Linked DNA regions of Homo sapiens: region 1 is linked to region 2. The links come from fine-mapping of genetic effects on gene expression. A gene starts in region 2. The other region holds a variant in brackets. All regions are shown on one strand. Distances are from middle to middle.

Region 1 (8,175 bases), 22 kb after region 2:
GCTGCAGCTGGGCTGCTCAGAGAGCCCCCAGCCCAGGGCTGAAGAGCTTCAGGGCTCAGCTGTGTCCCAGGCAGGTGCTGGGGCTGGGGGGTGGGAGCCTGGCCCTTCTCCCTCCCACTGTCTCCTTCTCTTCTTTTTTTTTTTTTTTTTTTTTTGAGACTGAGTCTAGCTGTGTTGCCCAGGCTGGAGTGCAATGGCGTGACCTCAGCTCACTGCAACGTCCGCCCAGATTCAAGCAATTCTCGTGCCTCAGCCTTCCTGAGTAGGTGGGATTACAGGTGCATTCCACCACGCCCGGCTAATTTTTGTGTTTTTGGAAGAGCTGGGCATTGTACCATGTTGGCCAGGCTGGTCTCCAACTCCTGACCTCAAGTGATCCTCCTTCCTCCACCTCCCAAAGTGCTGGGATTATAGGCATGAGCCACCGTGCACAGCCTGTCTCCTCCTCTTCCTGCCTCCCCACACCCTGCCTCATCCCCTTCCTGTGTAGCTCAGGGTACATACAGGCACCGAAGTGCACATCCAATGTGTCCCCGCCTACTAAATGTGCTGTGAGCATTACAAGCCACCCAGAGGGCCTTGCCTCCTAAGCAAAGGCCTCAAAGGTCCTTCCTTCCTGACCTGAGTCTCTCTCCTTCTAACTAATTATCCTCACTAGGAGCAGGCACTAGGAGAGAGCCGCTTCTCTGCCTCCTGCCCAAAGAGGGCCATTTCAGAGAACCACAGTAGAGGAGGAGCTGACTGCCAGCCTTGGAGCTTGTGGACTGGGGTCCAACTATTGCCAAGAAAAGTCTAAAGGTGAGGGATGGGCTGGATCTGCTCTTGCTGGTCAGTGGAGAGGAGGCTGCCCAAGGTCTACCACTCCCCAAGGGCAGGCAGGGGTGTCTGGTCTTCCTGTGGCCCAAGCGAACCTTGGGGAAGATCCATTCAAAAGCAATCCTGGCTGAACAGGAGTCTGGAAACTTTGAAGACCTCCTTCTACCAGACAACAGGATCCAGTAAGAAACAGACTCTGAGGCCGGGCATGGTGGCTCATGCTTGTAATCCCAACACTTTGGGAGGCTGAGGCAGGCGGATCACCTGAGGTCAGAAGTTCCAAGACCAGCATGGCCAACATGGTGAAACCCCATCTCTACTAAAAATACAAAAATTGGCTGGGTGTCATGGTGCACACCTGTAATCCTAGCTACTCAGGAGGCTGAGGCAAGAGAATCACTTGAACTCGGGAGGCGGAGGTTGCCGTGAGCCAAGATCGTGCCACTGCACTCCAGCCTGGGTGACACAGCAAGACCCTGTCTCAAAAAATCATAAAATAAAATATGTTTAAAAAGAAGGAAAGAAAGAAAACAATCAGGAGAAGAAATCAAGAAGAGAGAAAGATCTTCCTATTTTATGGGACTATCGAAGCCAAAAGTTGACTCTTGGAAAAGACTAATCGAATAGAAATTTGGAGAAATTTCTCATGACAAAAAGATATAAGACACAAATAAACAACCATAGAAATAAAAAAGGAGGCCGGACGCCATGGCTGACTCCTGTAATCCCAGCACTTTGGGAGGCCGAGGTGGGTGGATCACAGGGTCAGGAGATCGAGACCATCCTGGCTAACACGGTGAAACCCCGTCTCTACTAAAAATACAAAAAATCAGCTGGGCGTGGTCGCGGGCGCCTGTAGTCCCAGCTACTGGGGAGGCTGAGGCAGAAGAATGGCGTGAACCCGGGAGGCGGAACTTGCAGTAAGCTGAGATCGCGACACTGCACTCCAGCCTGGGCGACAGGGCCAGACTCCATCTCAAAAAAAAAAAAAAAAAAAAAAAAAGAAATAAAAAGGGAGCAGAACTATAGAGTTCTAGAGCTATTAAAAAGGTAACGAAAGAATGCAATAAATAAGGAAATGGGAAATTTCCCAGAAAACTATAACTTACAAAAGAGATTCAAGAAGAAAAAAAACATCTGACTTCTGGCAGCCCCAGCCCTGGGGCTACCCGATCTGACAAAGCCTTTTCCATTGTATGCGTCAGAGAGAGAAAAGATGGCAGCTGGACTTTTAACCCAAACTGTGGGGCCCTGGCTGAGGCCGGTGGCCTAAGTCTCTAAACAACTAGACAGGGTTTCTAAAGGATGGCCCCCCTGTTTGAGGGCCTTGGCAGAACTGCCCTGCTAGTACAAGAAGTAAATAAGCTGACTCTTGGGCAAAACCTGAACATAAAGGCCCCCCATGCTGTGGTGACTGAGAGCCAGCCCCTCTTCCCCCGCTGGCTCTTAGGATCCGCGGTGGACTCACAGCCTGTTTACCATATTGTGAGTAAGATCATCTCCCCCTCTGGAGATTATGAACTGTTTCACAGACGGGTGTACACCCTCGGTGTACAGAGGGTGTACACCCGTCTGTATTGGGAGTAATATCATCCTCTTCCTCCCTGAATATTAAGAACAGTATCACAGGGGTGTTTCTACTCCCTGCGATATCGCGTGTCATATCCTCCTCTCCCACGTTGCAATTAGAAACAATATGAGTGGGGGCGTGTCCACCTTCTGTCATATTGACAGTCATATCATCTTCTTCCCTCCAGCATCGTGGGAGCAATATCCCTGGGGGGTGTCCACTTTCTGCCATCTGTGTAGTCATATCACCCCCTCCGCCTTGGAATATTATTAAGGACCATCTCACACGGGGGTGTATACTTCCTGCGATATTGGGAGTAATACCAACCTCTCGGCCTCTGAATATTAGGAAGAATATCACAGGGTGGGTGTACACATCGTGCTCTATTATGGGGAGTCATATCTGTCTATTATGGGGAATAAGAGCATCCTCTCCCTTTCAGGATATCAAGGACAATTTCCCATGCTGGGTGAACAGCCTGCGATGCTGGAATTATTACCACCCTCTCCGCCTCTTCCCCCCCTGGCCCTTAGGACCCCCATCGCAGGGTGGGGAGGCACCCACCGCGACGCAGGGACTGAGAGCCAGCCCCTCTTACCGCCTGGCTCTTAGGACTCCCATCGCAGGGGGGGGAGGCAACCCCCGCGAGTTGGGGACTGGGAGCCAGCCCCTCTTCCCCCGCTGGCTCTATGGAATCCCATAGCCGGGGGGTGAGGCACCCCCCGCGAGGCGGGGACTGACAGCCAGCCCCTCTTCCCCCCTGGCTCTTACGATCCCCCATCGCGGTTGGTGGGGAGGCAACCCCCGTGAGGCGGGGACTGAGAGCCAGCCCCTCTTCCCCCCTTGGCTCTTAGCACCCCCATCGCAGTGGGGGGAGGCACCAGCCGCGAGGCGTGGACTGAGAGCCAGCCCCTCTACCCCACCTGGCTCTTAGTACTCCCATCGCAGGGTGGGGAGGCACCCCCCGCTAGGCGGGAACTGACAGCCAGCCCCTCTTACCCCCCTGGCTCTAAGGACCCCCATCGCAGGGGGGAAGGCACCCACGGCGAGGCGGGGACTGTGAGCCAGCCCCTCTTCCCCCTCTAGCTCTTAGGACCCCCGTAGCAGTGGGGGGAGGCACCCCCCGCGAGGCGGGGACTCAGAGCCAGCCCTTCTTTCCCCCCGGGCTCTTAGGACCCCCATTGCAGTAGGGGGAGGCACCTCACGCGAGGCGGGGACTGAGAGGCTGCCCCTCTTCCCCCCCTGGCTCTTGAGACCCCCATCGGAGGGCGGGGGAGGCACTCCCCGGGAGTCGGCGACTGAGAGCCAGCCCCTCTTCCCCTCCTGGCTCTTAGGACGCCATCGCAGCGGGGAGGCACCCCCAGCATGGCGGGGACTGAGAGCAAGCCCCTCTTCCCCTCCTGGCTCTTGGGACCACCGTCGTGGGGGGGGAGGAACCCCCCGCGAGGCGGGGACTGAGAGCCAGCCCCTCTTACCCCCCCTGGCTCTTAGGACCCCCATCGCAGTGGGGGGAGGCACCCCCCACGAGGCGGGGACTGAGAGGCAGCCCCTCTTCCCCTCCTGGCTCTTAAGACCCCCATCGAAGGGGGTGATGCACCCCCCGCGAGGCGGGGACTGACAGCCAGCCCCTCTTCCCCCCCTGGCTCTTAGGACCCCCATCGCAGTGGGGGGATTCACCCCCCGCGAGGCGGAGACTGAGAGCCAGCCCCTCTTCCCCCGCTGGCACTTGGGACCCCGGTCGCAGGGGGGGAGGCACCCCCGCGAGGCGGTGCCTGAGAGCCAGCCCCTCTTCCCCCACTGGCTCTTAAGACCCCCATCGCAGGGGGGGCAGTCACCTCCCGCTAGGCGGGGACTGAGAGCCAGCCCCTCTTCTCCCCCTGGCTCTTGGGACCCCCATCACAGGCGGGGGAGTCACCCCCCGAGAGGCGGGGACTGAGAGCAAGCCCCTCTTCCCCCGCTGTCTCTTGGGACCCCCATCGCAGTGGGGGGAGGCATATTATCAAGGAGGGACCATGGCAGCCCCTGGAAGATTCTTTCCAATGCCCCATGCCTGGTGGTCTCGCTCTCCTGAGGGGTGGGAATGGAGGTTTTTCTGCTGCTCCACTGGCTGTTATCCCTCTGCCCTCTGGGCTGTGCTTGTAAGATCTGGAAGGCTTCCCTGGCATCAGAGTTCCCTAGGGACAGGATGCTGACAGGTGCACTGACCTTGGGCGGGGCCATGTTGCACCAGGAGGCTCTGAGCTGTCCAGAG[A/T]GTCCACAGCAGCTGTGGCTGAAGTTGGAGGTGGACTGGCAGAAAGTGACTTTTGGCACCTGAAGGGTCAGCCTCAGCGGTTTGGGGAAGGTTTCTCAACATCTTATACTCTCCATTTCAGCATCTATCACACAGGGGCTCCCAGGGAAGGGTGGCAGGGCCAGCAGTGGTAGCCTCTGGCCCCACCTGGACCTACAGAGTCAGAAATCTGCATTGAAGCCAACAGCCCAGGGCATTGTGATGCACACTAAAGCTCGGGAACCACTTACCTAGAACTGCTTCTCTTATTGTCATCCCTTTCTCTACAGTTAATCCTTGGGTGCATATTTATTGATGTCCACCATGAGAGCGGCTCTGTGCTGGGCCGCAGGGAGACAGAGGCAGGAGACAAAGTCCCTGTCCTCACAGCCCCACAGTGTTTGGGAGAGCAGGGAACACATGGGCTGTCCCTGTGTGGAAAGGGCTGTGAATGGGGAGCAGTGGTACCGGTGGTGCAGAGAAACAGGAGAGGCCCATTTCTGAGCCTCTACCACACACCAGCATCCTGAGAGGGGTGTGTAGCCAGGCGCTCCTTCAACTTCCTACCAGCTCTGCATAAGGGGCCCTGTGGTCCCGTCCCACAGCTCACCATTTTGATGCAGGGACCATGCAGCAGTCTCTGGATGAGGGAAGGTCTGAGCAGAGCTTTGGAGCGTGATGAGAAGTGACCCAGAAGATCCAGGGCACGGTAGAGGGAAGGGCTGTAAGAGGTAGGGCTGGGACCACTGGTGCTTTGTTGAGTCACTGCCCAGTCACGAGAAGCAGCCACCTCGTCATGTTGTGTGAAGACGAAATGAACTCTGATTGTGGTCAGCCACTGTCAGTTAGGCATGATTTAGTGGAAAAGTGAGCTCAGCCTGGTGGATTACAATACATACGGAACATTTATGAGGATCGATGTGTCCAAGACCACACCTCAGAGCCGTAAGAACCCAAACATGTCTGGTTGGACAGCTGCCTGGGTAATGGGCAGGGAGCTGGAAAGAAGGCATACCTGGGAGGTGGGCCCTCGGCTTAGCGTCGCACATGCTGAGCTGGTTAGGTTAAAGTCCTGTCCACAGAGAAGCAGCGAGCAGTGGTCTGCGTCTGGGATGCAGAAGACAGGTCTGGGAAGAACACCCAGGGGTGGGAGTTGCTGGTATGTGGATGGTGAGGTTGTCCAGGAGAAGAGGGTTTAGATACAAGCCCCCATGCACACCAGCACTTCATGGAAGGGCAGAGGAGAGCACCCACAAAAACAGCTCAGTGAGAGGAGCTGGAGAATACCTCATCAGAACACAGGCAAAAGAGCTCTTCCAGAAGCCTGTAGTCAACAGTACCAAATGCTGCCTGGGCAGGATGAGTGAGGAGCTTAAAAAGGGCCCTTGGTCTACATGAAGGGATATCCTAGTGGGAGTAGTCATTATTTACTTTTTACTTTTTTTTTTTTTTTGCTGTGGGCATAGCCAGAGATGAGGCCTTTATGGTGTGCAAGTGGCTGCGGCCTGTTGGCATGCTACAATATCATGACATCTGTGAGGGGACAGCCTTGAATAATTAAACACGTATAGCAGAGCTATGAAGACTATGAGCAAGGAGATAAAGGCCTGGGCTCAAGCTGAAATCCTCTACTTACCAGCTAGGTCACCTGGGCAAATTGCTTAAGCATTTTATGCCTCAGCTTTCTCATCTGTAAAATGGGATGATAATAGGACTGATTGCACAGGTTACTGAAAGATTAACTGAGCTAATACGCATCTAGTGTGCAGAGCAGTGTCTGCATGCAGTAAGTGGGCAAAGATGTTGGCGATCACCCTTTTATCTCGTAGAATTTCGCTGAGTTTGGGAGATGACATTTCTCAGTAAGACTCTATTGTTCCACAGGCTCCTTGTTAAGAATCACCAGCGGCACTTGCTAGAGACGTGGATTTCTGGGTTCTAGCCCAGATGTTCTGCCTGGATTCACAGGGAGATGATCCTGGGACTCTGGCTCCAGCAAGTCCCCAGGGGTTCTCATGCTTGGAGAAGGAGAGCAATTCTGCTGGAACAGAATGGGGCACATGTTATAAAAAAGACCTGTGCACAAGGGCCCTAGAGGCCAGATGGAGGTTGGGAGGCCTCATCAGAGGAAAGGCAGTATTGATGTGATTTAGTGAAAGGGAAAGGCTGTGCAGGAGTGATGTCAGCAGGACAGTGGCCTAGGGTGCTGTAGACCCTTGCTCCTCTGTGGAAGCACCAGGCGAGGGGCAATGCATGGCTCCAGGTCGCCTAGTGGGAACTCCAGGAACTGGTTAAGGATCTGCAGCAATCACGCCAACTCCCAATGAGGACAAAACCACACTCAAAGCAGCAGGAAATGTTGTGGCATTTGGCTCACCTCTGCCCCACCTCCTTCCCAGCACGGTCAGGAGGAGGCCACCCTACTCCTGGTACCTCCCTGGGGACACAAGGGAAAGACCGAAACATGTTTACAGGGTTCTGGCTTGTCTGCGGGCTGCCTGTGGAACTGGTTTCTGTCCCACGCATCTTGGAGTGTTGATGCGAAGGGCAGCCTGCTTGGGATATCAGGATGGAGACCCTGGGGGCAGTACTGACTGCTGCCATATGTCAGAGCTGCAGGGGGTACCAGGACAAGGATCAGGGGAAGAAATAAAGCAGAAAGTCGAAGGCTTTCAACAGATGCAAAAATGAGGGAGAAATTCAAACATTCCCAGATATACAGCATATAAAAATGTATGCCCACCATTGAGCACCTAAATATATAAAGTGAATGTTAGCAACCCTGAAGGGAAAAATTGACAGGAGTACAACAGCAGTAGGGAACTTCAGTACCCCACTCTCAATAATGGACTGACCGTCCAGACAGAAAATCAAGAGGAAACACTGGGCTTGAACTATACTTTCCACTAAATGGACCTAACAGTCATATACAGAACATAGCATCCAACAGCAGCAGATGGGGCATTCTTCTCAAGGGCTCACAGGGAATGTTTTCCAGGACATATCATATGTTAGGCCATAAAACTAGTCTTAACAAATTCAAGAAGATTGATATCACATCAAGGATCTTTTCCAGCCACAATGTTATGAAACTAGAAATCAATCAAAGGAGGAAACTGAAAAATTCACAAAAGTGGAAATGAAGCAAGAAGCTCCTGAATAATCAGTGGGTCAAAGAAGAAATCAAAAGGGAATTCAAAAAATATCTGGAAACAAATAAAAATGGAAATATCACACACCAAAGTTTATGGGATGCAGTGAAACCATTTCTAAGAGGAAAGTTTATATTGATAAATGTCTACATTAAGAATAAAGAAAGGTCAGAAATAAACAACTTGACTTTACCTCCAAAGGAACTAGAAAAAGAACAAACTAGGTCCAAGGTTAGCGGAAGAAAGACAAAAACAAAGATCAGAGCAGAAATAAATGGAATAAAGACTAGAAAATAATACAAAAGATTAAAGAAACTGAGAGTTGGGTTTTTGAAAAGATAAACAAAATTGAAACACCTTTAGCTAGA
Region 2 (8,000 bases):
AAGGCCCTAGTACCCAGAGAGGCTGAGAGCATCACACAAGGTCACACAGCATGTCCAACAGTCTCAACTGGGCTTCTGGGCTAGGAAGCAGCTGCTGGCCAGGAATGTATCAGGTAGGGAGGAAGCCCTGCCCTCACCTGCACCTTCTGTGTCCAGAAGTACAGGTGACCAAGAACCCCAGCCCTACCACCTGGCCTCTGAGCCGCCAGTATAGGATCAACACCTGAACACCTAGACAGTCCTGTTCGCCTCCAGCAGCTGCTGGGGTTCTCGTCCTGGGATACAGAGGAGAGAGGCACAGCGGTGTGGGAGACCCATTTAATGTGGACACTCAAGGCCTGGGCAGAGTGGGGAGCGCCCAGGAGTTGGGTGGGCAGGCAAGTGGGTGGGTTGCAGGCCCACTCTTGGCCCCAGGAGGGCATGCCAGGTGGTGGGGGCTGGCCCAGGTAGGCCAAGGGGAGGCCCAGGCAGGAAGGGTGGCCCAGGCAGGCAGACCCACCAGGGGTCCCTGAAGGCCAGCCCTTGAGAAGGTGTCTAAGCCAGGGGGTGAGTGCCCAGGCCAGAGCCTAGCCCAGGGAGGCAGGGTTGGGTCCCGGTTGGGGGCTCTTGGAGCCTAGGGGCTGGCATCACTGGGGGCCTCCCCGAGCTGCTGCTGGAACTCCAGGCGTGTCTGCCGGTTGGACTCCAGCAGCTCCTGGAGGCGGGCGTGGAGGTGGTCATTCTTCTCCTCCAGGTGGTCCAGACAGGAGTTGATCTGGTCCAGCATGGAGTTGATGGCAGCGTATTCTGGGAGGAAGGCGAAAGACAGAGCCCAGATCCTGTGTCTCCTTGGGGCTAATGGACACCCTCCCTCCACTGTTTCCCAGCCTGCTTCCCAAAGGGCTTTGTGCAAGTCCCTACTGCTTCCTGAGCCTCAGTGTCACCGTCTGGAAAATGGGTGGAATACCAAAAGAGGAGTGGCTTTGAATGAATGACACTTTAGTACTGCATCCTTTTTTCTAGGGTTAGGGTGGTCATAGGGTGGCGAGCCAGTGTCCTACATGGGAAGTCCTGCCAGATGCCAAGTCTCTGCACTTCCTGCAGCAGCTGCTTAGTGGCCAGAGCCCACATTCCTGAGTTGGGCATTCAAGGCCTCTGTCCCCAGATGGGCCCTGTTCGCCAGCCCTTCTGTGGCTCCCTCAGGATAAAACACCCAGCGGAGTCTCCAGCCCCTGCCTCCTAGCTAGCCCTGCCTCCCTGCCTCTTCCTTTCCTCTCTCACACCTGCCTTTACCTACCTCAGGCCCTTTGAACATGCTGCTGTCTCTGCCTGGAAGGTGCTGGGTCCTCCCATCTTCCTTCCCTTCTCTCCTCCTGGATGAGTCCCACTCATCCTTCAAGTCTCAGTATGGATGTCACCACCGGGAGCCCACCCAATGCCCCAGACTGGATCAGGCCTCTATGCTGAGCCCCTAGCCCTCCTCAGCCCTCCACGACCTTCTCTCCAGGATTGACTGCTGTGCTTATCTGAGTGCTGTTATGTTTCCCCATGAAAGATGAACGGTCCTGTGTTCGCTGCTGGCTCCCTGGTGCCCTCACAGTTTTGCAATAAGCATTTGTTGAATGACTGAGTGAGTGAATGAATGAAGCCTCTGACTTTCCAGCCTCTCCGCCATTGCTCAACTATCCCTGCAACCTAGAATGCCTCAACCACAACAGCCCTTCAAGGACCAGCTCAAAATGCCTCCTCCAAGAAGCCTTCCCTGGTCTCCACTAGAAACCATCACTCCCTCCCCTCCACGGCCACTCCAGAGCTGCCCTGCTCAGCAACACAGTGTCCCTGAGGACTCAAGGTCTGGGCCTGTGCCCACTGCGGGACCCAGTTCTGAGCCAGCCCATGACTCACATACACTCAGCTGCCAGCTTGAGACCAAGGGGGAAGCAGCCGGTGGAGGAGCTGGAGGAGCGTATCTGGGTTATGGGTGCATATGTGCCTGTGTTCTAGGAAAGGGCACCCGTTGCCTAGAGCCAGCCACCCTCACAGACGACAGCGTCCTGGGAAATCGGCTGCATCTTAAAGTCCAACCCCCTCATGGTATATAGCTAGGGAAACCGAGGCCTCAGAAGGAAGGAACCTGCCCAGGGTCCTCCAGGTTGGTAACAGCCGAAACTCAGGATTGGACTTGGGGGTCAGGGTCACTTGGGTTTGAATTTCAGCTCTGCTTTACCCCAGCAAGTTGTACCTTTCTGGAAAAAAGGGAAAATAAAAAAGGTTGTGAGGATTCAAACACATCAAGAGTTCAGACAGTGGCCGGTGTGGTGGCTCACGCCTGTAATCCCAGTACTTTGGGAAGCCAAGGCGGGTGGATCACCTGAGGTCAGGAGTTCGAGACCAGCCTAGCCGACGTGGTGAAACATTGTCTCTACTAAAGATGTATAAAAATTAGCCAGGCGTGGTGGCAGGCGTCTGTAGTCCCAGCTACTCGGGAGGCTGAGGCATGAGAATCGCTTGAACCCAGAAGGCGGAGGTTGCAGTGAGCCAAGATCACGCCACTGTACTCCAGCCTGGGCAACAGAGCAAGACTCCGACTCAAAAAAAAAAAAAAAGCTCAGACAGGATCTGGCCACAGCAAGTACTTAGTGGATGGTCATTATTATCAATATTTCGAACTCTGTGTCCTGGGATACAGGCTAGGAGGAGGAATTGGGGAGGCAGGTGCCCCACACCCCTCCAGGCCAGGCTTTATCTGTGTCAAGGGTACTTCCCAGTTCCAAGCCTTTGCTTCTGCCTGGGACACCACCCTCCTCCCCACTGTTCTAAGTCCTGTCTGCCAACATCCACTTAATGTGACCTCCTGGGAAGCTCTTCCTGATGCTCCCAACAGCATTGCCCAATGCAGAGCTACCTGAAACTATTGTGATGGATGTACAACCCTGGGAATACACAAAAGCCTACTGAACTGTACAGTATGGGTAAGTTGTATAGCTCAATAAAGCTGTTACGCCAAACAAAACAAAGAGCATGCACCATACTTACACCACATTTACTAAATCCTCAGTGTATGTTAACATGCCAATCTTTACTATACCAAAGATAATAATGACGATAACCATTTACTGAACTCTTGCATGCTAGAACCTGCTAAGGATTTTCCTTTTTTTTGCATTTAATTCTGACACATCCCAGTGCAGCAGACACTAATCGTTATTCCTATTTTATAGAGGGGGAAACTGAGGCTGAAGAAGGTGAGAAGGGAGCCGATGGTTCTCTTCACACCCCACCCCTGCACTCGTAAGCACGCAAAAGGCTGCTCTGTAAGCTGCTGACATTTGGCAAGGCTGTGAGGCTACACCAGCAAAGCCGGGTGGCTGGGGATGCTGAATCGGCAGAGCGACGCCCCCGCGTCCCCAACTCCACGTCCCGGCCCGGCCCCTCCGCTAAGCTCAACCCTGCCTCCCTCAGGTGCCTCGGTCTCCCCCAGGACTGAAGGAAGTGGTGGAGCAAGGCCCACAAGGGCGAGTGTCCCCGAAGCTGCCTTAGTTTCCCCATCTGTAAAACGGGACTGGTGACCTGCAGCTCTCACGGGGCTGGGAACCGGCTCGCGGGTGCTCGCCCTGCATCCGAGACAGCACCTACAACTCCGGACCCGCTCGGGGCGGAATGGGTGGGCTCTTTGTTCCCTTCCGAGACCCCATCTCGATTCCCCTTCCCGGGAGGGCAGCCCTGAAAATGCAAGGTTGCTCCAGCAGCCCCCTCGGGTCACCTGCTTCCCCGAAGCCGTCCTCCTCGCCTTCCGCTCCCGCCTCCACCGGCATCCCCAGGTCTCCGTTGGGGCCCGACATTGCGGGCTCGGGCGCCCGAAGGGCCGCGCGACGATGGAACGCGGCGACCGTCGCGCCGAAAGCCGGCGCCGGATGGAAGGTGGAGGCGGCGGATAGAACACGGGCCGGAAGGGTAGAACGCGGCAGCAGATCTCCGCCCAGAGGCCGGTGCCCCGCCCCTGAAGCCGGAATCCCGCAGCTCCCGCTCCGCCCCGCCCCGCCCCCAGCCGGAACTCCGCCCCCGCCGCTGTTCTGGCCCCGCCCTACCTCCAGACTCCACCCCCACCACCGGACTCCCGCCTCCACCTCCCTCACAGTCGAACTCCGCCCATTCCGCCCCCGGCCTCGCCCCTCTCCCGGGCGCTGGGCGGGGCCACCACGGGGCTGCCCCTGGAAAAGCCCAGGAGTAGGGAGGTCCGGGAGGAGCGGCGGGAGACCGTCCAAGCCCATCTGCTGCTTCGGCCCCTCCGCGTTGGCGAAATCGAAAACGGGGTTTCCTTGTTATTTTTTGAGATAGGGCCTGGCCCTGTCTTCCAGGCTGGAATGCAGTGGGGTGATCTCTGCCTCCCAGCCTGAAGCGATCCTCCCACCTGAGCCTCCAGAGTAGCTGGGACTACAGACGGCTGCACCACGCTGGCTATTGTATTTTTTGGAGACGGGGGGGGGGGGGGGGGAGGGGTTTCGCCATGTTACCCAGGCTGCTCTCGAACTCCTGAGCTCGAGCCATCCACCCGCCTCAGCCTACCAAAATGCTGGGATTACAGGCACGAGCTACTGGGCCCAGCCTTGGAAACGGGGTTTCCACACCTCTTGTGGCTTCCGGATATACCTCTTGTGGCTTCCGGATATTCTTCTTCACAGCCTCGCTGAGAGTCACGAAGGGTCTCCTTCCTCTTTGCCTCTCTGCCTGCACCCCAGTGGAGAGGACCCAACACCCCTACCCCTGGATCTGGGCCTTCCTGGTCTTCAGCGCTTCTCTTAGGGCTCATTGGTTACAACCTGTGGGTGGGAATCAGGCTGGACTCCAGCTCTGGACAAGAGAAACAGGAACATTAGCTAGGCGGGGTGGCTCCCACCTGTAATCCCAGCGCTACGGGAGGCCGAGGTGGGAGGATTGCTTGAGCCTAGGAGTTGGAGACCAGCCTGGGAAACATAGTGAGACACCCTACTCCCACCCCCGCCCACTCAGCCCCCCCCACCCCCGTCTCTACAGAAAGCACAAAAAAAATTAGCCAGACCTGGTGGCATGCACCTTAGTTGCAGCTGTTTGGGAGGCTAAGGCAGGAGGATCACTTGGGCCCAGGAGTTCGAGGCTATAGTGAGCTATGACTGCACCACTGCACTACAGCCTGGGCAACAGAGTGAGACCCTGTCTTTAAAAAAAAAAAAATTAATTAATTAATTAAAAATAAAATGTTTAATTAGCCAGGTGTGGTGGTACACGCCTGTAGTCCCAGCTACTCAGGAGGCTGAGGCAGGAGAATCACTTGAACTGGGAGGCAGAAGTTGCAGTGAGCAGAGATCGTGCCCTTGCACTCCAGCCTAAGCAACAGAGCAAGACCCTGTCTCAAAAAAAAGAAAAAAAAAGGCCAGGCCTGGTGGCTCACGCCTGTAATCCCAGCACTTTGGGAGGCCGAGGCGGGCAGATCACGAGGTCAGGAGTTTGAGACCAGCCTGACCAACATGGTGAAAACCCGTCTCTACTAAAAATACAAAAATAAGCCGGGCGTGGTGGCGTGTGCCTGTAATCCCAGCTGCTCAGGAGGCTGAGGTGGGAGAATCACTTGAACCCACGAGGCAGAGGTTGCAGTGAGCTGAGACTGCACCACTGCACTCCAGCCTGGACAACAGAGCGAAAATCCGTCTCAAAAAATAAATAAATAAAAAGTTTGGCCTGGAGCAGACCTACCTTTGTTTGTTTGTTTGTTTTGAGACAGAGTCTTGCTCTGTTGCCCAGGCTGGAGTGCAGTGGCATGATCTCAGCTCACTGCAACCTCTCCTTCCCGGGTTCAAGCAATTCTTGTGCCTCGGCCTCCTGAGTAGCTGGGATTACATGTGCCTGCCACCACACCCAGCTAATTTTTTTTATTTTTAGTAGAGACGAGGTTTCACCATGTTGCCCTGGCTGGTCTCAAACTCCTGACTTCAGGTGATCCACCTGCCTTGGCTTCCCAAAATGCTGGGATTACAGGTGTGAGCCACCATGCCCGGCCTGGACCTACCTCTTTTTTTTTTTTTTTTTGAGACGGAGTCTTGCCCTGTCGCCAGGCTGGAGTGCAATGGCGCAATCTTGGCTCACTGCAACCTCCACATCCTGGGTTCAAGTGATTCTCCTGCCTCAGCCTCCTGAGTAGCTGGGACTACAGGCACACGCCACCACGCCCAGCTAATTTTTGTATTTTTAGTAGAGACGGGGTTTCACAATGTTTGTCAGAATGGTCTCGATCTCTTGACCTCGTGATCAGCCCACCTCGGCCTCCCAAAGTGCTGGGATTATAGGCATAAGCCACCGCGCCTGGTCCCTGGAGCTACCTTTTTAAGTTGAACTTTGAGAAGCCAAAGAGAAAAAAAGATTAAATAAAAATTTAATTTTTTTTTTTTTTTGAGACAGAGTCTCACTCTGTCACCCAGGCTGGAGTGCAGTGGTGCGACCTTGGCCCACTGCAACCTCTGCCTCCCGGGTTCAAGCAATTCTCCTGCCTCAGCCTCCCGAGTAGCTGGGATTACAGGTGTATGCCACCATGCCCGGCTAATTTTTGTATTTTTAGTTTCACCATATTGGCCAGGCTCGTCTCGAACTCCTGACCTCAGGTGATCCACCCGCCTTGGCCCCCCAGAGTGCTGGGATTACAAGTGTAAACCACCATTCCTGGCTAGATTTAATTTTTTAAAAAATAAAGAGAAGTAGGAATAGTTCATTTTAGGGAGAGCCCCTTAACTGGGACAGGGGCAGGACAGGGGTGAGGCTTCCCTTAGTTCAAGCTCACCTCAAACCCACCCAGGACTGTGTGTCACATTCTCCAATAAAGGAAAGGTTTGCTGCCCCCGCCTGTGAGTGCTGCAGTGGAGGGTAGAGGGCCGTGGGCAGAGTGCTTCATGGACTGCTCATCAAGAAAGGCTTCATGACAATCGGCCCAGCTGCTGTCATCCCACATTCTACTTCCAGCTAGGAGAAGGCGGCTTGCCCACAGTCACCCAGCCGGCAAGTGTCACCCCTGGGTTGGACCCAGAGCTATGATCCTGCCCAGGGGTCCAGCTGAGAATCAGGCCCACGTTCTAGGCAGAGGGGCTCACCTACTGGGACTCCAGTAGCTGTAGTGCATGGAGGCATCATGGCTGCAGCAGCCTGGACCTGGTCTCACACTGGCTGTCCCTGTGGGCAGGCCATCCTCAATGCCAGGTCAGGCCCAAGCATGTATCCCAGACAATGACAATGGGGTGGAATCCTCTCTTGTCCCAGAAGCCACCCTCACTGTTCTACCTGAGGAAGGCAGGGGCATGGTGGAATCTGAAGCCTGCTGTGAGGGTCTCCAGCGACTTGCACATGGTCAGCCCTGCCTTCTCCTCCCTGAACTAGATTGAGCGAGAGCAAGAAGGACATTGAACCAGCACCCAAAGAATTTTGGGGAACGGCCTCTCATCCAGGTCAGGCTCACCTCCTTTTTAAAATTTAATTAATTAATTAATTAATTTTTTTTTAGAGACAGAGTCTTACTGTGTGGCCCAGGCTGTAGTGCAGTGGCACAATCATAGTTCACTGCAGCCTCAAACTCCCCACCTCAGCCTCTGGATTAGCTGAGACTACAGGTGCACCACCACCACACCCAGCTAATATTTTTATTTTTGTAGAGAGAGGGTTTCACCATCTTGCCCAGGCTGGTCTCAAACTCCTGGGCTCAAGTGATCCTCCCACCTCAGCCTCCAGATTAGCTGAGATTACAGGCATACCACCACCACGCCTGGCTAATATTTTCAATTTTGTAGAGACAGAGTTTCACCATCTTGCCCAGGCTGGTCTCAAACTCCTGGACTCAAGTGATCTTCCCACCTCAGCCTCCCCACGTGCTCAGATTACAGATGTGAGCCATGGTGCCCAGCCTAGCCTGCCCTCCTTGGCTGAGAGTGAGGCCCTCAGCAGAGAAAGAGATTTGCTGATGCTCCACTGCCTTTGAAGGAGGAAGGAGCCACAGGCTAAGGGGT

What was found. PIP is the estimated chance that this variant, and not a neighbour inherited with it, causes the effect. A credible set is the group of variants that fine-mapping cannot tell apart.
Region 1: its variant is the best candidate, but not a certain one, in a credible set for the expression of BBLN in testis (GTEx, PIP 0.73).

Annotation. Positions count from the first base shown.
Region 1 is chr9:128,134,590-128,142,764 of GRCh38, reverse strand. No RefSeq gene overlaps it. Among named protein-coding and RNA genes, the nearest start is that of PTGES2-DT, 10 kb to the right of the region's middle. RefSeq lists a cis regulatory region at 466-639 and an enhancer at 4,256-4,755. The variant A/T (reference allele first, on the strand shown) is at 4,638.
Region 2 is chr9:128,156,229-128,164,228 of GRCh38, reverse strand. BBLN (bublin coiled coil protein) reads right to left here and starts at 3,964. Exons shown (of 2, transcript NM_024112.4): 1 at 3,743-3,964; 2 at 305-786. The coding sequence starts at 3,821. The coding sequence ends at 614. RefSeq lists silencers at 3,715-3,804, 4,015-4,224, 6,244-6,439, 7,713-7,913 and enhancers at 3,156-4,109, 4,110-5,063.